Linked DNA regions of Homo sapiens. The protein of the gene in region 1 purifies or fractionates together with the protein of each later gene. This does not show direct contact. Each region holds a gene or a part of one and is shown in the gene's direction. Other genes may lie near its edges.

What was found. Proteins that work in one complex are often made in the same cells at the same time.
Region 2: the proteins of RBBP7 (region 1) and BRMS1 purify together in Homo sapiens (affinity purification with mass spectrometry; 5 studies listed by BioGRID and IntAct, with this or other methods). This does not show direct contact.
Region 3: the proteins of RBBP7 (region 1) and ARID4A purify together in Homo sapiens (affinity purification with mass spectrometry; 6 studies listed by BioGRID and IntAct, with this or other methods). This does not show direct contact.

Annotation. Positions count from the first base shown.
Region 1 is NC_000023.11:16,843,841-16,846,362, reverse strand, and holds the end of RBBP7 (histone-binding protein RBBP7), read left to right. Parts: intron 1-424; coding exon 425-535; intron 536-1,259; coding exon 1,260-1,328; 3' UTR 1,329-2,022; downstream 2,023-2,522. UniProt on the Homo sapiens protein: Core histone-binding subunit that may target chromatin remodeling factors, histone acetyltransferases and histone deacetylases to their histone substrates in a manner that is regulated by nucleosomal DNA.
Region 2 is NC_000011.10:66,341,056-66,350,782, reverse strand, and holds the start of BRMS1 (breast cancer metastasis-suppressor 1), read left to right. Parts: upstream 1-5,678; 5' UTR 5,679-5,811; intron 5,812-8,541; 5' UTR 8,542-8,548; coding exon 8,549-8,687; intron 8,688-9,159; coding exon 9,160-9,250; intron 9,251-9,449; coding exon 9,450-9,577; intron 9,578-9,727. Other genes in the region: B4GAT1 (beta-1,4-glucuronyltransferase 1), read left to right, coding at 3,238-4,293, 4,543-4,734. UniProt on the Homo sapiens protein: Transcriptional repressor. Down-regulates transcription activation by NF-kappa-B by promoting the deacetylation of RELA at 'Lys-310'. Promotes HDAC1 binding to promoter regions.
Region 3 is NC_000014.9:58,363,710-58,372,603, forward strand, and holds part of ARID4A (AT-rich interactive domain-containing protein 4A), read left to right. Parts: intron 1-460; coding exon 461-1,591; intron 1,592-1,808; coding exon 1,809-1,913; intron 1,914-2,314; coding exon 2,315-2,521; intron 2,522-3,173; coding exon 3,174-3,320; intron 3,321-6,313; exon of another isoform or gene 6,314-6,371; intron 6,372-8,176; coding exon 8,177-8,280; 3' UTR 8,281-8,894.

The DNA of each region.
Region 1 (2,522 bases):
TTACCTTAGATGTTTGCACCTAACTGTATATGAGCAAATGATGCTGGATTAATGTTCATCATAATCAGTATGGAAATGGCATTTTGACTAGGAAAATGTCCTCATTCTTAAGGGATGCAGGCTGAAGTCTTCAGCCATTTCATTGTATAGGCTCATGGATAAAGCATCAGTTATGCTAGTATCACTTGGTGAATCTAGGTAAAGGGTATACAGGTATCCATTGTACTATATTCTGTCACCTATTCTGGAGGTTTGGAAATTTGCAAAATAAGTATAAATAGATTACTGAGCCTGTACCACCTTCTAAAACCAGACAGCACCCACCCCCAGTTGAAATACTGATAGCTCTAAAAACTTAGTAAAACCTTTGTTAGGATTAACAGGAGAGTATATGAAATCAAAGCTTTTTTTGTTCTTGTAACAGTTTATTCATGGAGGACACACTGCTAAGATTTCAGATTTTAGCTGGAACCCCAATGAGCCTTGGGTCATTTGCTCAGTGTCTGAGGATAACATCATGCAGATATGGCAAATGGTGAGTTAAAATGTTTTTCTTGAATGACTGTCTTGTAAAGGAGAGATTTACTACTTACATAATGTAATAAAGTTATTTCGAATATGTAGGTGCATATTATGCCAAACATTTACAGAAACCGTTTAAAAGAACTTTTTCCATTTCAACAATACAATCTTTAGTCCCATATGGTGCTTCGTCCACTGTTTGCTATTTGTAGCACCTGTCAGGTCAGGAGAAATCTCTGCATCTGCACTGATTTTCATTGTTGTTGTGCTCTTCATACACTGGAGTCTTGGCGTCGCTACTCTGTCTCCAGTGTCTGTTCTGTGTGGTAGGCATGAGGGATACAGGAAGGAGAGGTCAAGGCATTCAAATGACAGCAAGTTCTCTGAGGATGAGCACTAAGTAGCTGACATTTCTAAGTTGTTGTTAACCGAGACTTCCATAACATCTGGGCTACCACTTCCTCTAAACGATGCTTGAAGTGCCTTTGGAAAACATCTCTTATGAACAGTGATTGAAATAAGTAGTGCATCGATGGGTGGCTAAGTATACATACGGAATTACACACTGGCAAAGAATTTTTCAAAATACTGGCTAGCCTACCATTTCCTTATTGAAGTTTTTAAGAGAGAAATGTAAAAATGAAACTATTAAGTTCTAAATAGATTAAATTGTTTTTACATGACCATGTGAAAACCATAGGGAGTTTTTACCTGTGAATTTATTTGGTTATCTCCAGGCTGAAAATATTTACAATGATGAAGAGTCAGATGTCACGACATCCGAACTGGAGGGACAAGGATCTTAAACCCAAAGTACGAGAAATGTTTCTGTTGAATGTAATGCTACATGAATGCTTGATTTATCAAGCGCCAAAAAGGCATTGTATAGTAGGAAATGTAAGTGGGGTGGCTTATGGCTTCTTTATCCTCTGATTCTAGCACTTTCAAGTGAGCTGTTGCGTACTGTATCATATTGTAGCTATTAGGGAAGAGAAGAATGTTGCTTAAGAAAGAACATCACCATTGATTTTAAATACAAGTAGCAGGGTATTGCCTTTGATTCAACTGTTTTAAGTCCTCATTTTCTCAAACTAAGTGCTTGCTGTTCCCAAATATGCAAGAATAACTTTTACACTTTTTCCTTCCAACACTTCTTGATTGGCTTTGCAGAAATAAAGTTTTAAAATAAAACTTGTGTTTTTTTAAAAGCTTAGTGGGGGGGGGCGGGGGAGTCTACTTTTTGAGTAGAAATGGGTAAAATGGTACCTTTGGACTCCTACAGTTAAGGTCACATGGATAATGAAAGAATACACAGAAGCTGTTAAGTTTATCATACATATTTACTTAATCTATACAGAATCAAGTAGATAAAATCAGATTCACATTAGTGAAAAATCTCTACAAAATGTCTTTGAAAAGCAAAACGAGACTGCCTCTTAACAATTCGTATCCTCATGAAAGACGTGGGCTGTAAAAATAAAGCAGTGTGTTTAGCACAAACTAGAAGATATCTGCATCATTTTTTTCACAGTTATTTCCATCTACAGTCTGAAAGAGGTAGATTTTTCTGCAACACCTGAGAATTGAATTGTGATAACCAGGTGTAATAAAGGCAGTTGCATACATAACTGAAAAATACTGGTCTCAAGACCAAGAAATGTACTCCTAACAAGTCTGAGGATGAAATGGTCCATATTACCCAAGACCCAAGTTTTCTCTACACCTTGGAGTCCACCGCCAATATAAATAATACACATCACGATTCCATGATGGTGCAACAATTGCAATTTAAGTGAATTCAACATTTAAACCTTTTCTGGGCCAGCCTAGTAGCATTACAGTGTTCTAGAATATGGTAGATACGGGGTGCGCTACAAAGCCACAACACTGGGCTGGTGAGGTGATCACTGTAGGAAGATGTCCTTCTCAGGGGGTCCCATTTGTTTTTATTCACAGGGTAATGGGAGGAAGGGTTCTGAAAGGACAACAAATGCATCCCA
Region 2 (9,727 bases), on another chromosome or scaffold:
AGGCTGAGGCAGGAGAATCACTTGAACCTAAGAGGCGGAGGTTGCAATGAGGTGAGATCACTCCACTGCACTCCAGCCTGGGAGACAGAGTGAGACTCTGCCTCAAAAAAAAAAAAAAAAAGTTAACACACAAAATTCTGGTTGGGCACAGTGGCTCATGCCTGTAATCCTACCACTTTGTGACGCTGAGGCAGGTGGATCACCTGAGGTCAGGAGTTTGAAACCAGCCTAGCCAACATGGCAAAACCCCGTCTCTACTAAAAATACAAAAATTAGCCGGGTGTGGTGGCATGCACCTGTAGTCCCAGCTACTCGGGAGGTTGAAGCTGGAGAATTGCTTGAACCCGGGGGGCAGACGTTGCAGTCAGCCAAGATCGCGCCACTTCACTCGAGCCTGGGTGAAAGGGCGAAACTCCATCTCAAAACAACAACAACAACAACAAAAATTCAGTTATATTTCTATACACTAACAATGAACAACGTGAAAAGGAAATTAAGAAAACAACTCCATTTACAATAGGATACAAAAGAATAAAATACCTAGGAAAAAATTAACCCAGGAAGTAAAAAACTTGTCCACTGAAAATACAAACACTGGCTGAGCTTGGTAGCTCACTCCTGTAATCCCAGCACTTTGGGAGGCCGAGGTGGGCAGATCACCTGAGGTCGGGAGTTCGAGACCAGCCTGACTAACATGGAGAAACCCTAGTCTACTAAAAATACAAAATTAGCTGGGCATGGTGGTACATGCCTGTAATCCCAGCTACTCCGGAGGCTGAGGCAGGAGAATCACTTGAACCCAGGAGGCAGAGGTTGCAGTGAGCCGAGATTGAGCCATTGCACTCCAGCCTGGGCAACAAGAGCGAAACTCTGTCTCAAAATAATAATAATAATAATAGGGCTGGGCGCAGTGGCTCACACCTGTAATCCCAACACTTTGGGAGGCCAAGGTGAGTGGATCACCTGAAGTTAGGAGTTCGAGACCAGCCTGGCTAACATGATGAAACCCCATCTCTACTAAAAAATAATACAAAAAATTAGCCAGGCATGGTGGTGCACTCCTGTAATCCCAGCTACTCAGGAGGCTGAGGCAGGAGAATCACTTGAACCTAGGAGGCAAGGTTGCAGTGAGCCAAGATCGCGTCATTGCACTCCAGCCTGAGCAAGAAGAACAAAATTCTGTCTCAAATAATAATAATAATAATAAATAAAAAATAAAACACTGAGGAGGTCAAAGAAAATCCACATGGCAGCATGTCTGACTTCTGAGCCTCCAGTCTATAAGGCCTGTGCTGAAAGGATCTGCACTTACTTTTCTCCTCTTTACAGCCAAGGTCACCAGTGGAAACTCTCAAGGACAATACCTGTGTCTCCTCCAAGGCCCATCCCTCGTGCCTAACACAGTTCCTGGCAGAGACCAGGTACTCAGTGTGTGTTTTTGCTCTGGGCTGCAAAATAAAGGTTTTCTGATCACTCTTCAACTCAACAACCTTGGCACCCTACTGCCTGTGGAATAGTGGGACAAACACTTTATCCTTATTTGAAGCCCTGCCCAGTCTGTCCTGACATCCCAAGATTCAGAGCACTCTGCCCTATAGGGGCCTCCCTGGCTCAGCCTAAAAAGTTGAGTAATATACGGTAATTGATTTAGCAGTGGCAGTGTCTGCCCTTCCCACGGCCTCTCCTGTTCTAAAGAGTCCACAGATGAATTAATCCACAAATACTTATTAAGAGTATAGTGGCCTGATATTGGAATGTTCAAAGCCTTCTGCTTAAGAGTTTGTGTGCGGCCGGGCGCGGTGGCTCACACCTGTAATCCCAGCACTTTGGGAGGCCGAGGTGGGCGGATCAGGAGGTCAGGAGATCCGAGACCATCCTGGCTAACACGGTGAAACTCCGTCTCTGCTAAAAATACAAAAAATTAGCCGGGCGTGCTGCATGCGCTAGTAGTCCCAGCTACTCGGGGCTGAGGCAGGAGAATCGCTTGAACCTGGAAGGCAGAGGTTGCAGTGAGCCGAGATCGCGCCACTGCGCTCCAGCCTGGGCGACAGAGCGAGAATCCGCCTCAAAAAAAAAAAAAAAAAAAAAAAAAGAGATTGTGTGTGTTGGGGAGCAGGGCATGTGGACACAAGGTCTCCGCCCTAGGAGAAGTGCTGGAGAGTAGGACAAGTACCACTACTTCGGACGGGGAGGGCGATGCCTCCAATGGGGGGCTTCCCTGATTCCTGCAGATCATACGTTGGCCCCCAACTTCACACTGGCCAGAATCCCGGTTCTAGTCTTTTCCGTGCCACCAACCCCTGGGCCCTCTTTCTAGAAGGAAAGAAAACACCTTTGGCCTCTGCCCAGAGCTACAGACACCTGAAGTAGGAGCAGGCAGGAGATGCGTGGTGGATAAAGACCAGAGAGACTTGGGATCGAATTCCACTCTCACCCCCAGTTCAGTTTTCTTCAGCTTGCTGCTCCACAGGCAGGATGTGAAAATTTAGATGCCTCACCCCTCGCACCTCCAGCTTGCTGCTCCAAATAGGCAGGATGTGAAAATGTAGATGCTTCCCCCCCAACCTCTATAAAACAGGGCCGACGAGGATGGGATTCGAACCCACGCGTGCAAAGCACAATGGATTAGCAGTCCATCGCCTTAACCACTCGGCCACCTCGTCCTACGTGACAGGTTTGTCCACATTCACTTATCTCTCATCTACTCCGCACCTTCCAAGCACTACCACGTAAGTCGCAACGCAGACCTCTTCGGACACAGGGAAAGAAGAAGCCGCGGAAGGAAGGGAGCGTTTTGATTTCCTTTCTGCTGAGCCCGCGCCATCCTTTACCACGCTGCAGCCGAGCTCTGCCGCGGTTTCCCTCCGAGTCCGGCCGAGCGCGCCGCGCGTTCAGGGCGCGCCCGGTCCAGGGTGCGCGCGCCGGCGGGGAGGGAGAGGAGTGCGTCCCGGGAAGCCGGCGGGGCCCGGGCGGGCGGGCGTCTGCACGGCGCGCGGCCGAGCGGCGGGGCCGTGGCTCCTCCTCCCTCGTAGGGGGCGAGCCGGCGCGCCGGGGGCTGGGGGCGGTGGCGGGCGGCGGGCGGCGGGCGGCGGGCGGCGGGCGGGGCGGCGCTCGGGGCTCGGCTGGCCTCGGCTCGCCTCGGCTGCGCTCGGCAGGCTGCGGTAAATCCGGGCTTGCGGCCGCTGGCGTAGTCTGTGGCCGGGTGGTCGTTGCTGCGCGCCCCGAGCCCCGAGAGCCATGCAGATGTCCTACGCCATCCGGTGCGCCTTCTACCAGCTGCTGCTGGCCGCGCTCATGCTGGTGGCGATGCTGCAGCTGCTCTACCTGTCGCTGCTGTCCGGACTGCACGGGCAGGAGGAGCAAGACCAATATTTTGAGTTCTTTCCCCCGTCCCCACGGTCCGTGGACCAGGTCAAGGCGCAGCTCCGCACCGCGCTGGCCTCTGGAGGCGTCCTGGACGCTAGCGGCGATTACCGCGTCTACAGGGGCCTGCTGAAGACCACCATGGACCCCAACGATGTGATCCTGGCCACGCACGCCAGCGTGGACAACCTGCTGCACCTGTCGGGTCTGCTGGAGCGCTGGGAGGGCCCGCTGTCCGTGTCGGTGTTCGCGGCCACCAAGGAGGAGGCGCAGCTGGCCACGGTGCTGGCCTACGCGCTGAGCAGCCACTGCCCCGACATGCGCGCCAGGGTCGCCATGCACCTCGTGTGCCCCTCGCGTTACGAGGCAGCCGTGCCCGACCCCCGGGAGCCGGGGGAGTTTGCCCTGCTGCGGTCCTGCCAGGAGGTCTTTGACAAGCTAGCCAGGGTGGCCCAGCCCGGGATTAATTATGCGCTGGGCACCAATGTCTCCTACCCCAATAACCTGCTGAGGAATCTGGCTCGTGAGGGGGCCAACTATGCCCTGGTGATCGATGTGGACATGGTGCCCAGCGAGGGGCTGTGGAGAGGCCTGCGGGAAATGCTGGATCAGAGCAACCAGTGGGGAGGCACCGCGCTGGTGGTGCCTGCCTTCGAAATCCGAAGAGCCCGCCGCATGCCCATGAACAAAAACGAGCTGGTGCAGCTCTACCAGGTTGGCGAGGTGCGGCCCTTCTATTATGGGTTGTGCACCCCCTGCCAGGCACCCACCAACTATTCCCGCTGGGTCAACCTGCCGGAAGAGAGCTTGCTGCGGCCCGCCTACGTGGTACCTTGGCAGGACCCCTGGGAGCCATTCTACGTGGCAGGAGGCAAGGTGCCCACCTTCGACGAGCGCTTTCGGCAGTACGGCTTCAACCGAATCAGCCAGGTGCTCATAAGGGAGAGGGCAGGGGTAATGGGGCAGGAGGGGTGGTGGGATCAGGGAGTTATGAGGAGTGGCCCTGGATGGAAAGGAGGCAATGAAGCAGGAGGGATCATAGTTCAGGAGGTGGGTGGATGGTGTGGAAGATCCAGGATACTTCCAGAGGGGTGAGGACGCTGGACTGTGGCTTTAGGGAAGTCAGTCTCAGGCCTGTCAATGTCATCAAACTTTGCTAACCTGTCTTTCCTCCTGCAGGCCTGCGAGCTGCATGTGGCGGGGTTTGATTTTGAGGTCCTGAACGAAGGTTTCTTGGTTCATAAGGGCTTCAAAGAAGCGTTGAAGTTCCATCCCCAAAAGGAGGCTGAAAATCAGCACAATAAGATCCTATATCGCCAGTTCAAACAGGAGTTGAAGGCCAAGTACCCCAACTCTCCCCGACGCTGCTGAGCCCTTCCCTCCCCTAATCTGAGAAGTCAGCCTCTTGGCTCCTCAGGCCACCATTTAGGCCTGACTGGGGTAAGAAATGTCGCTCCACTTTACAGAGGTAGCTGTGGTGTTGAAACACTGGACTTGGATATGGGGTGCTGGGATCGATTCCTAGCTTTACCACTAACTAGCTGTGTGGCCTTGAGTAAATCCCGTTACCTCTCTGAGCCTCGGTTACCCTGTCTGTAAAAAGGGAGGTGAGAATACCTACCTCACGGAACTGTTGGGAGGCTCAGATGAGATGCTATATGTGAAAACATTCTGTAAGCTTCGTACAAATGTGAAGTATTAATATTATCGCAGTATTATTGTTGTTATTATTATTGTTATTATTAACAATCTTGGGTGGGTAGTAGGAGAGCAAAAAGTATGAATGGGATGGAGCTAAGAAGTCTGAATACTTAATGAAATGGACTTTTTGGAAAGAAATCAGATGAAGGCATAAAATTTAGTTCTTAGCTCTTGAACAGAAGCCTAAAATTCCTGGTTCTCTCAGGGCTTCGCCTTCAAGGGTTCTGGAGGAGGGAAGGGTCTGCAGGTTCCATGGGTGACAGCCTGAGATCTGTCCCTTCAACGGGCTGGGCTGGGTATGTGCCTACCGATGACAATGTGTAAATAAATGCGTGTTCACACCCACAGCTGGCTCCGTTACTCTCCTGAGCTGGGGGTGGGGGGATCGGGGCCGGCTTCTCCCCTTGCACGCCGTGGGGAGATGGCCGCGGACGAAGGGCACCGTCTGCAAAGCACTGAACCATCAGGGCCTTCCCTGCAGGCCGAAGGCCTGCGCGAATGTCGGCCAGTTACTATGGAGACCGGCCCGCGGTATCCCAGCATGCCTCGGGACCAAACTGTCCAACTGTGAGCATCCCCGACGGTCGCCTCCTGATGACGCACACGGAAGCACCGATAGGCTCTGCCTCCCGAAGAAAAGGGAGCCGCGCAGCGCCTACGGGAGTCCGGCGGCAGCAGCCGGTACCGGCAACCACGGGCAGCTCTCAGGGAATCTCCGTCGTGAGGCCAGAGGCTCCAGTCCCCGCGGTGCGTATCGTCATGCATGGCTTTTGGTTCGCCCTCTCCGGTTAGTCGAGCAGGGCCGGCACAACCTCCTCCTCCGAGGCCGAAGCAGAGATTTAACCGGCCTGACGCGTGCTGGGCTGCGGGCGAGCCAGTGATATTCCGGCCCGCTCCGGCGCATCTAGAAGGGAGCGGGAGGCCCCCTGGGCGCTGCGGAGAAGCTGGATTGACCTCTGCGAGAGTGGGGAGGGTCTGCCTTCCCTAGGGGCCTGCCCCGGAGGAGCTGCCATTCTGAAAAGATAAATTGCCTGTGTACAGCGCTTTACAGTGTGCTTTTCCATCCCTTACCACCTGTGAGCTCCTCAACACTCAGAGCAGGAATGGTTATCCGCTTTTTGCACCCGGGGTAAGGTGGGAAGGTTGTGACTTAACTCACTCATAATCAGAACCAGGGGGAGGAAAGAAAGGCTTCTGGAAGAGATAGACTTAAGCTGCATCTTACAAAGTGAATATACTAACAGTGAAGAGGCATTGCAAATGTTGGGAACTGAGGCTTGATAACGGGAAGATGAAGCTGGTTTAGAGAACCGAGCCTTTCAAGTCAGGTGCAGGTCATTAGTGAAATTGTTGAGGAATATGACTAAACACTCACCTAGGCCAGGCTTACTATACACAACTTGAACTGGTGTCAAGGAAAGCTTGCTACCATTACAGGGACCTGGGACTACCGAAAAGTAAAAACTAATGTCTGTCTCACAAAAAATTTTTTTGTTAAATTTGTATTTGCAAATCCTCCAGTCATCAAGTGAACCAGCACTGTGCTAGGTAAATAAGTTACATGTGCAGCCCCTGCCCTAGTGAGGCTCATAGACTGATTGCGGGGACAGATATGAGAACAGGCAAATAGATATAAACAAAGCTTCCTGGAGGGAGTGGTGTCTGCACTGTTCTAAAGGACTACAAAGCAGTGTCCAGAGAAGTTGGAAGAACACAATAAAATAGAAGCCTGCAGGAGGTTGAGAGATTATCTGCTGAGAGGACTGTTTTCTTCTTCTTAGGTGATCTCTTGGCAGTACTTGGCACTATCAGTGCAATTACTCCTTGGCAGTACTTGGCTTTCTTCTAAAACTCTTTCTCCACCACTTCGGGTTTTGCCTCCTCCTTTGTAGGGGTCTCCTCATCTGCCCCTTTGGTGACCCTGGGCGTCTTCTGATCGCACACATTGTGCCTTGCTGGTTGCACCTTCTCCTGTGGCATGAAGAACTTGCTGTATGCTGACGACCAAATCCCTGCAGCTCAGATTTCTCACTGAGACTTAGACCCATGTTCCCCCAGCTGCTTTCCTTCTCTTATTTCTGGGTCTTTGCTACTGACTCTACCTGGAATGTTCCCTCAATAAGTGCAGCTCACCCAGCTGGTCCATCTTTGTCTGGAAGCCTCCCTGCTGCATCGGGCTCCAGGTCCTGGTTATATACCCCTCCCTTATGCCCCTGGTCTTAACTCTCCTCCTATCATGGTTATAGTGTGCTCCTTTGCCCCTGTCTCCCAGGAACTTGTAAACTCCGTGAGGTCAAAGACATTCACACTTGGGCGCCTGCATACCATAGCGTCTGACGGTACCTAGCATATGTTAGATGTTCAATACATGTTAGATGAGTCAGTAAAAGAAGGAATGCTTACCAGTGTTGGATGTTGCCGAGCAGACAATTAAAATAAGCACTGAAAAATATTGGCATTAGCCACAAGGAAGTCATTGGTTAATGCTACGGGATCAGTTTCAGCTGAGATTGAGGACATCGAACAAGTGGGAGGTGAAAGTAGGAACAGCCAGTGTTCATGAGACCTTGAAAAGTGTAACTGTGAAGTGGCAAATGGAGCAGTTAGGTGGAATGGGTGAGGTTTTGTGTTTCTGTGTTTTGTTAATGCTAGGAAGTACCCAAGCACATCCAAAGTTTCATGGGAAGGAGGTTGCTAAGAGTTAGAAGCTGAAGACACAGAAAAGAGAGGGGAGCACTGATGACCTGCGGTCCAAGAGGAAGCAGAAGGAGATGGGATTTGACCCAGAGCACAATGAAAGACAAGGAGATTGTAACATTATCTGGAAGAGAAGCCGAGGACATTATAGGCAGAAGGAACAGCTGAGGCAGAGGGTGGATAGTGGAAGTGCAAGCACTAGCCATTATATGTTGGGATGAAGGAGCTGGACCGGTAGGTCAAGTCCAGTCTGGGAAAGACCTTGAAAGCCCCAGTTAGAAATTTAGGTCCAGTTTGGGTGTGGTGCGGGCGCCTGTAATCTCACTACTCAGGAGGCTGAGGCAGGAGAATCGCTTGAACCCAGGAGGAGGAGGTTGCAGTGAGCTGAGATCGTGCCACTGCACTCCAGCTTGTCAACAGAGCGAGACTCTGTCTCAAAAAATAATAAGAAGAAAAGAAATTTAGGTCCAGTTGCAAAGGCAGTGGAGAGTGCCCCCTGGGCCTTTCCTTTCTGTGGATCACAGCCTTGGCCAGTATTGCTAGGATTAGGATCACCAGTGACATCCAAGAGCAGGAGCAGTTCCACAGCTCCCAGCCTTCTGTGAGAGGTGCAGATGGCCATTTGCACCCTTGTCACCCAGTTTGTGCTCAAGGTGTGGCCAGGCCAGTTACTTCCCTGGCTTTCCCCATCTGGGATCGAGTTGTGTTCAGCATCCTGCTGCCTCTTTCCCCCTCTGAGCTGTGGGCAGCCATAAGTGATAGCTCCATTCCTTCTCCCAGAGTCCAGATGCCTGTCCAGCCTCCAAGCAAAGACACAGAAGAGATGGAAGCAGAGGGTGATTCTGCTGCTGAGATGAATGGGGAGGAGGAAGAGAGTGAGGAGGAGCGGAGCGGCAGCCAGACAGAGTCAGAAGAGGAGAGCTCCGGTGAGCCCCTACACACACAGACACACACACACACACACAGAGCCCCTACACACACACATGCACACACACAGCCCCTACACACAAGCATGCACGCACATGCACATACAGCGCCTACACACAAGCACATACACAGACCCTGCACACAAGCGCACACACGCACACACAGCCCCTACACACAAGCACGCACACACAGCCCCTACACACAAGCACGTATGCACACACACAGCCCCTTCACACAAGTACACGTGCACACAGCCCCTTCACACAAGCACGCACGCATATGCACACACAGCCCCTACACACAAGCACACACGCACACACACAGCCCCTTCACACAAGCATGTACGCGCACACACACACAGGCCCTACACACAGGCATGCATGCACACACACACATGCAGGACGCACATGCACACATGCGGGTACCCACCACTCCTCCCCAGAGCTAGCCCTTACTGGCCTCTTGTCCCAGAGATGGATGATGAGGACTATGAGCGACGCCGCAGCGAGTGTGTCAGTGAGATGCTGGACCTAGAGAAGCAGTTCTCGGAGCTAAAGGAGAAGTGAGCGTGGGGACACCTTGGGCTGGGTCTGCGAGGATCTGGGATGAGGAGGTGGTGGGCCTGGTACTGGGCAGGCGTGGTTGGTGCCCAGGAAGTGCGCGCCTAACACCGGGCTTGCTGTGGAATGGGTGCTGGGTATGTGTTTGCCCAAGAGCGATGGGTGAGCAAATGGGTGCACGGCTGCCTTTTTACCACGCAGGTTGTTCAGGGAACGACTGAGTCAGCTGCGGTTGCGGCTGGAGGAAGTGGGGGCTGAGAGAGCCCCTGAATACACGGAGCCCCTTGGGGGGCTGCAGCGGAGCCTCAAGATTCGCATTCAGGTGGCAGGTCTGTGGGTGGTTCTGTACCCTCTTCCCCTCCCAGAACCCGTGGCACCCTGTCCCCTTCCTCTCTCGTTCCTGCCCGGCCTTGCCCTTTGCTCTCAGCCCTCCTATGTGGGCACCGGGCTCCCCAGCCAAGCAGGGACCCTCCTCCCTT
Region 3 (8,894 bases), on another chromosome or scaffold:
AGAAAAGAAAAAACCTTTTCTTTCCACAGTTATTTTAAGTAGAATGTCATATTCCTTTCTTAGGGTACAAAATGCCCATCATCTGTCCTTCCTAGATACTATCTCAAACCACTTAACAAATTAACTTCATGTCTAGGATGTCTAGGTACTAATCTTTTGATCTTTTTTAAGGACTATTGTACCTAAATATGATACTGGGGAATGTTGCAAAATAGCTTTTCATATAGATTTGAGTTAGTAATATGCAACGTAATATATTTTTGCTTGGAGCTTAGTTTCCCCTCCCCCTCAAATTCTTGGCACAAATGTTATGATTTGTTTTATTTCAGAAATTTCTACAGGGAGGTATTCAGAGGTACATGATTAAAGATTTTTATTGTTATTTTTGGTAAGATTTTTATTGTAAAATTACATTGGTAATATAAAAACCTGTATAATATAATAATATTTCCTCTTACAGACTCTTGTTCATCTGATAGTGAAACAGAAGATGCTTTAGAAAAGAATTTAATAAATGAAGAACTTTCTCTTAAAGATGAACTAGAAAAAAATGAAAATTTGAATGATGATAAGCTAGATGAAGAAAATCCAAAGATTTCTGCACATATATTAAAAGAAAATGATAGGACTCAAATGCAGCCTTTAGAAACCCTGAAGTTAGAAGTTGGAGAGAATGAACAAATAGTACAGATTTTTGGGAACAAAATGGAAAAAACAGAAGAAGTTAAGAAAGAAGCCGAAAAATCTCCAAAAGGAAAGGGAAGACGAAGCAAGACAAAAGATCTTTCTTTAGAAATTATAAAGATTTCATCATTTGGCCAGAATGAAGCAGGAAGTGAACCTCATATAGAAGCTCATAGTCTTGAATTGTCTTCATTAGACAATAAAAACTTTTCTTCTGCTACAGAAGATGAAATTGACCAATGTGTGAAAGAAAAGAAGTTGAAACGGAAAATACTAGGACAATCATCGCCAGAGAAAAAAATAAGAATTGAGAATGGAATGGAAATGACAAATACTGTATCTCAAGAAAGGACCAGTGATTGTATTGGATCTGAGGGAATGAAAAACTTAAATTTTGAACAGCACTTTGAAAGAGAAAATGAAGGAATGCCATCATTGATAGCAGAGTCAAACCAATGCATCCAACAACTGACTAGTGAAAGATTTGATAGTCCAGCTGAAGAAACTGTAAATATTCCACTAAAAGAAGATGAGGATGCAATGCCTCTGATCGGGCCTGAAACCTTGGTTTGCCATGAAGTAGATTTGGATGATTTGGATGAAAAGGATAAGACCAGCATTGAGGATGTAGCAGTTGAAAGCTCTGAGTCTAACTCTCTTGTTTCTATTCCACCTGCCCTACCTCCTGTAGTCCAACATAACTTTTCAGTAGCTTCACCACTTACTCTTAGTCAAGATGAGTCTCGAAGCGTAAAAAGTGAGAGTGATATAACGATTGAAGTTGATAGTATTGCTGAAGAATCTCAAGAAGGTCTCTGTGAGAGGGAATCGGCAAATGGATTTGAAACTAATGTTGCCTCTGGTACCTGTAGTATAATTGTACAAGAGAGAGAGAGCAGAGAGAAGGGTAAGGACTTTCTAGGGAAAAGTAAGTGTTTATATGAAACCAAAAATCAAAACTGTTGAGTTTCAGGTACTGTTGATCTGTAAAGTACTTTCTTTTTCTTTTCTCTCTTCTTTTCTTATTAAAAAGAAAGAAATGTCAGTGTAGTCTGTTGAATAATATACTTGCTCTTTTTTTTTTTTTTTTTTTTTTCAACATTCTCTCTTTCCCCTTATTTCAGGTCAGAAGAGGCCAAGTGATGGAAATAGTGGATTAATGGCAAAAAAGCAAAAGCGTACCCCAAAGCGAACAAGTGCTGCAGCCAAAAATGAAAAGAATGGAACAGGTTGGTGTCTTTCAATGCTAGCTTTTGTATAGTGTTAGTATTTTTAGCAGTTTGTTGGCTTGTTTTAAACATAAATGGAGCAATACTATATTGTTTTATAACTGCATTTTCATTTAACAGTATTATACTAGATATTTTGCCATTTTTATTCTTAGGAACTCTAGCTCATTCTTTTTAACAACTTTAGGAAAGTATTCAATAGTTTATCATTTTTAACCATTTCCCCGTTGGTGAGCATTTAGGTTTTTTTGTTTTTTTGTTGTTTTTATATTGTTATAAACTTTGTGCATTTGTGCACTTATTTCTGTAGGATACCAAGAAATGTAATTGTTAGGTCTGTTGCATTTTGATATTTAAGAATTTTATTTATAATCTGAGTCAATCTTTTTTATTATTTATAGGACAAAGCAGTGATAGTGAAGATCTTCCTGTCCTAGACAATTCAAGTAAATGTACCCCAGTAAAGCATCTTAATGTATCTAAGCCACAGAAACTTGCACGATCTCCTGCAAGAATATCCCCGCACATCAAAGATGGAGAGAAAGATAAACACAGAGAAAAACATCCGAATTCATCCCCTAGGACATATAAATGGAGCTTTCAGCTCAGTAAGAAGCTTATAGAAAACTTGATAGATGAATACTGTAAAGTGGAATAGATCTTAAAATATCAACTTGGATTAATGTTAATAAAATAAGGAATAATGATTAACTATTTAGATATTCCAAATATTGCCTTAGCAAGAATCACCACATGTTGTCTTAAGTATAAATCTGTGTCTTTTCATAAAACTGACTTGATAAATATTGACTTACAGGAAGGTCTCCATTAAGAAGCCATGTATGATTTATATAAATCAGTGAAATTGAAGTGCCCTTTGTAGCACTAACAATTAGAAATAGCCAGTAGTTATTTCTATTATGTAACTAGTAGTAGTGAAGAAAATGTCAATACAGGGAAACTATTCTGATAACTATAATTATAGATAGGTCAGGGTTAGTTTGTGTTGATGTTTTCTTATGTTTTTCTGATCATTTAAGTAATAAATGTTTAGTATAGAAAATTTGGGATCTAAAAATAATTCTTAATCATGAATTTAATTCACGACTTCCTTGTTTTCAGTCTTATTCAGCTTACTGTAGGAGATTTTAATAAACTAAAGCTTTTGTTGATTTATGAGTTAGACGTTTGATAGAATTGTCATCATTTTTCTCACAGAATTATTTTAAAATCCAAATTAACTTCTTTCCCCCCTTTTAGATGAATTAGATAATATGAACAGTACAGAGAGAATCTCATTTCTCCAAGAAAAACTACAGGAAATCAGAAAATATTATATGTCTTTGAAGTCTGAAGTTGCAACCATAGACAGGAGGAGAAAAAGATTAAAAAAGAAAGACAGGGAAGGTAATTTTATTATGATTTTTCTCCCCTTATATTTCAAAACTATATCCTATCATTTTAGAAGATTTAAATTTGATACTCTTTGAATATAGTACACATTCATTAATTGCTGTTTTTAAATTCCTAGTGTTTTCTATTGTTGAAATGAGTAGGTCAGCAACTGAGTTAATCAGAATGACACCCTTAAAAGGGAGTATGAACTGTTTTCCAAAATGGGTGATTGTACTAAATGTGATGGATTCTCAGGTAGAGCATAGTCCTTCTGAAATTCACTCTTTGCTCAAACATTTATTGGCATCTATTAACAGGCACTGTATTTGTTATGGGGTTCACCAAAATGAATGAGACATAAGGCTTATTCTCAAGGAGATTATCTTGTTGGGATTATAAATCATTTCCTAAGCAACTAAAATATAAGATAGTGCAGCTCAGCAACTTTAAAGAGCACATGCCATGTGCCAGGCACTCTGCCAGGTGGCGGAAGTACAGAAATGAGTTAGATACAGACTTTCTTCTCAAAGATCTTAACATCTAGTGGAACAGTGTGTACCCTGAGAATGATATTAACGAGTACAAGAGTTAGTGGAAGGAGAGGTTACTTTGGAGTAGTCAGAGAGAGGGAGTAGTGTCTGAGCTAGCCCTTCGGGGGTTGTAGGATTGACTTCCAGTTAAACATGAACATGTCCATCTACAGTCCATCCCTAAGCCCTGCTAAAATAACAGTAAAGGAAATTAAAAGCCCTAAACTCAAAAGGACAAGAGAATGACCACAACAGACAAGAAATGTCAACAGTATATCTTTTGGAAGCTGCATAACAGATGGACTACTGTAACTGTCCCAGCAGATGAGATAATGCTGAAACTAAGCTTGCTTGTCCTTGTAGTGGGACAAAACAACAAGAAGCAAGCCAATTAATACCATGTAACCCCAGAAAAGCTTTCAGAAGGGATATGGGACGATGCTGAAAAATGGGATTGGTTGAAAATGGAAAGAGAAATTGGATCTCTTCTTCCCATCTGTGAAGCAAGTCTACCTCACCCCCAACTCAAGCAGAAAATAGATTAACTTAAAAGAGAATGAGGAAATCAGTAGGCCTGTAGACTTGGGGGCACCAGCCACAGCTGAGGGTAATGATTAAGTGCTAAACCAAAATAATGGATGGAGTGAAAGTTTGCATACTGAATAGTTAGATTGCTGTCCCTCTTCTAACTCAAGGCCTAATCCTCTTGGCTTCCTGAAAGCTGGCAGCCAAGCTTATGCTTATTCCTGGGAGGAGATTGGAAGATTCTTCTAAAGAAAATGACCAGCCCAAGAAAAATTACCTACTATTTGGATGTTCCTGAAACAAAAATCAAGATCCTTGCCAATCACTACATGTGCATTTTCTGTATTTAAAAGCCCTGATGCTCATATACAGCTTTCAGTCAGCTTTTTAATGTTAAATATGGAAGCCACATGACCAGACATTTGAGGAAAGCCCCTACATAAAGGCAGAAGCCAAAGTAGAAAAAGGAGAATAAAAAGGAACTGGAAGAAAAAAAACAGATAATGTACCATATTAAAAAAAAAATAGGACAAAACTATTCTTAATAGTTAATCCAAGTTGAGTATCCTTTATTTGAAATGCTTGGGTCTAGAAGTGTTTGGGTTTTTTATTTTTTTCAGATTTTGGAATATTTGTACATAATGAAATATCTTGGTGATGGGACCCAAGTCTAAACACAAAATTCATTTATGTTTCATAGACACTTTATACACATAGCCTGAAGGTAATTTTATATAAATAATTTTGTGCATGAAACAAAGTTTGTGGTAAGTGCTTATGTGTGGAATTTTCCACTTGTGGCACCACGTTGGTGCTCAAAAGTTTCAGATTTTGGATTTTTGGATTAGGGATGTTCAATTTGTATCCAGAGATAAAGGGAAAGAGATTGCCACCTTGAAACAAAAGCATAATAACTATTTTAAAAATTCAGAGAACAAGAAGGATATCTTTAAAATATGATAGCAGGAATTTAAAAAAAATAATAAGGCAGTGAAGCTGAAGAAATTCCACTAGAGGGTCAAAAAGACAATAGGAGAGAAGAAATAAGAGAAATATGGAATCTGGCGAGGAGATCCAACTTCTGAATCATAGGATTTCTAGAAGGAGAGTTGAATAAACAAGAGGAAGTTGTCATCAAAGATATTTTTAAAATTCTAGAACTGAAGGATATGAGTTAGAAAAGGACTCACTGTGCCCTCTATAAATAATGGGGGTGAAAATCACCAAAGCATATGAAATTTCAGAATCCTGTGGATAAAGAGTAGATTCTAGGCCTGGCACAGCGGCTCACGCCTGTAATCCCAGCATTTTGGGAGGCAGAGGCAGGCAGATCACTGGAGGCCAGGAGTTTAAGACCAACCTGGCCAACATGACAAAACCCTGTCTCTACTAAAACTACAAAAGTCAGCTGCGCATGGTGGCAGATGCCTGTAATCCCAGCCACTCAGGAGGCTGAGGCTTGAGGATCACTTGAACCCGGAAGTGAGCACCGAGATCGCGCCAGTGCACTCCAGCCTGGGTGACAGAGTGAGAGTCTGTCTCAAAAAAAAAAAAAAAAAAGTAGATTCTAAAAATTTACCATATAAAGATACATATATAAAAAGAAATGGATCTCAGAACAGCATCAAGAGTCTTACATCCGATTTCTCAATGGTAGTACTAGAAACTAGAAGCCAAGCTAAGAAGACATGGGACTGGCAAACAAGGAATCCTACATAGGAAAATAGTGAAGGAATATCTGAAGGTGATGGTGAATGGAAGCTCTAGGATGACCACTGCATAGCAGACCTAGAAAGCAACTATTCCAGGAGTAGGATGGAACAGGAGGGGAAAGCTCCAGAAGGGATGTCTCTTAAAAACCAAATAAAAGGTAAATTACCTGATAGGGTTGATCATGTTGAGAGAAGTTTTCTGCCTCTAGTAGAGATTTAGTGGATGACTTTGTGGTAGAGTGACGTGTCATGTGTGGCCTTGACCATTGTGCTCCAAGTCCAGCAGTTTTTAATTCCTAGAAATAGGAACAGGATGGAGCAAATGGAAAGAGATCAGACTTCTCATGTTCATCCTTTTCTTTTAAAAACTGTAAATAGCAAGAAGTCTTTACAGAACTTTTGAATATCAAAAGAAGAAAAGAACAAATTAGCAAATTAAAATTTCTTCAAAGAACCCACCACTTGCTCTGGGGTCAGTTTCCTAAAGGTGACATACATTTCAGACAATTAAAAAGATTTTCTTTTTGTTGAGACAGAGTTTCACTCTTGTTGCCCAGGCTGGAGTGCAATGGCACAGTCTTGGCTCACTGCAGCCTCCGCCTCCCGGGTTCAAGCCATTTTCCTGCCTCAGCCTCCCGGGTAGCTGGGATTACAGGTGCCCGCCACCATGCCTGGCTAATTTTTGTATTTTTAGTAGAGATAGGGTTTCACCATGTTGACCAGGCTGGTCTCCAACTCCTGATCCCAAGTAATCTGCCCACCTCGTCCTCCCAAAGTGCTGGAATTACAGGCATGAGCCACAGCGCCCAGCCAAAAAGATTTTTTTATTACCGTCTTTTTTGTTGTTGGGGGGTACAGGCTCTGGCACCCAGACTGGAGTGCAGTGGCATGATCACGGCTTACTGCAGCCTCAGACTCTTGGGCTCAAGCGACTCCCACCTCAGCCTCCCGAGTAGCTGGTACCACAGTGCCTGCCACCACACCCAGCTAATTTTTTAGTTTTTTTTGTAGAGGCATATTCTCACTATGTGGCTCAGGCTGGTCTGGAACCCCTGTTCTAAAGCAATCCTTTTGCTTTGGCCTCCCAAAGTGCTGAGATTATAGGCATGAGCCAACATGCCCAGCTTATTATAGTCTTTTCCCCATTTTTATTTGCTTATGTTTTTATAATGAGTTATTAAATTGAGATTTGAGTGATTTGTAGCATACATGTAAGAATTTGTTGCCTGGGCATGGGGCTCACGCTTATAATTCCAGCACTTTGGGAGGCTGGAGCAGGAAGATCACTTGAGTCCAGGTGTTTGAGACCAGCCTGGGCAACGTAGTGAAATCCCATCTCTACAAAAAATTTAAAAATTAGCTGGGTACAGTGGCATGTCTTAGCTACTTGGAAGGCTGAGGCAGGAGGGTCGCTTGAGCCCCAGAGGTTGTCATGATACTTGAATAAACAAAAATTAAAATTTTAAATAAAATAGGAACAATCAGGCAAAGAAAGGCAGAAGACAAGAGTATTGCAAGGAAAGAGAAGATAAAAGCAAAGAACTTAAAAAGTGGCAAAACACCTAATGCTCAGAGTACCGATCCCTAATCTGTGTTATGTCCTCCTGGAGAAAATTATGTTAAAACCATTTGAGGACTTTTTGCTTATCACACATCATTACTTTGATCCTGATCTCCATGATTCTGATACCTGTCAGAGGAAATCCTCTGAGTTAAATTAATTCTCTTACGGTCCTATGACCCATAGATAAAGCAGAAATTCCATATGGTTCCATGTTTATCTCAGGTTGACCTTGTTTCTGATTGAGCCAAGTTCCTTCATGGGATCTCCCAACTAGAGGTTTAAGAGTTTTTGTCTCTTTAATCTTTACATTTTATGATGTATTTTTAAGTGTTGAGTAGTGCTTAACTGACCAAAGACTAACTCCACTTAATTGAGCCAAACAAAATTTTTGCTGACAATTTGTTACTCCTTCATGTGACATATAAGAGGCCTGTGATTAAGGTGAATAATGTTAAGAATTTTATTTCTAATTTGCTGTTAGCTGGGTATCTTTGTGTAACAGTTTTTGGATCTAACATAGTTGTTTTGATTCCACAGTGTCTCATGCGGGAGCCTCCATGTCATCTGCTTCATCAGACACTGGAATGAGTCCCTCATCATCATCTCCCCCACAAAATGTACTTGCTGTAGAATGCAGGTGATAAACATTTTCTCTACCTTCCCAGCAGTTTGCTGCCATGGACATAAATCCCCAAACCCTGAATTACAACCACAGAAAGCACTCAACTGGTTTGACATTGCTAAGTATATCCTGTATACTTTTCCAGGCTGGATTGTATCTATTCCCCTCTCTCTTCTTTTTTCTTGTTGCAAAAAATAAGCTGATTAATAAGTGAAGGTTAAGCAGCCTGCCATATTTGTCATAATTTTTCCTCTTTACTTTTGTTTTTCGTTTGTTGTGATATAGAACAAAGGGCACTTAGCAAATTTGAATTTGTATAATAAAGCTTTCAGGTGTTACAGAAATCGTAGACAAGCAAGTGCACATGATAAACATCAAAATATTACCCAGCTGAATAGTTACTGCTGCACTTTCACTAAGATGTATTTGAACACTTGGTGAGTAGGGGGTTTATGTTGTGTTTTTTTTCATTATCGTTTTTTTTATTTTTGTGGAAGCACTTGCTATTTAGAACTGCCAAAGTATATGTTCAGCAGTGTGCCCAGGATTGAAGGTGTAAATGGGACAAAATAAATTGTGAAAGGAAGTGTAGTTGACTGAAAACTACAGTTGTAATAAGTCTTCCACTTTTTA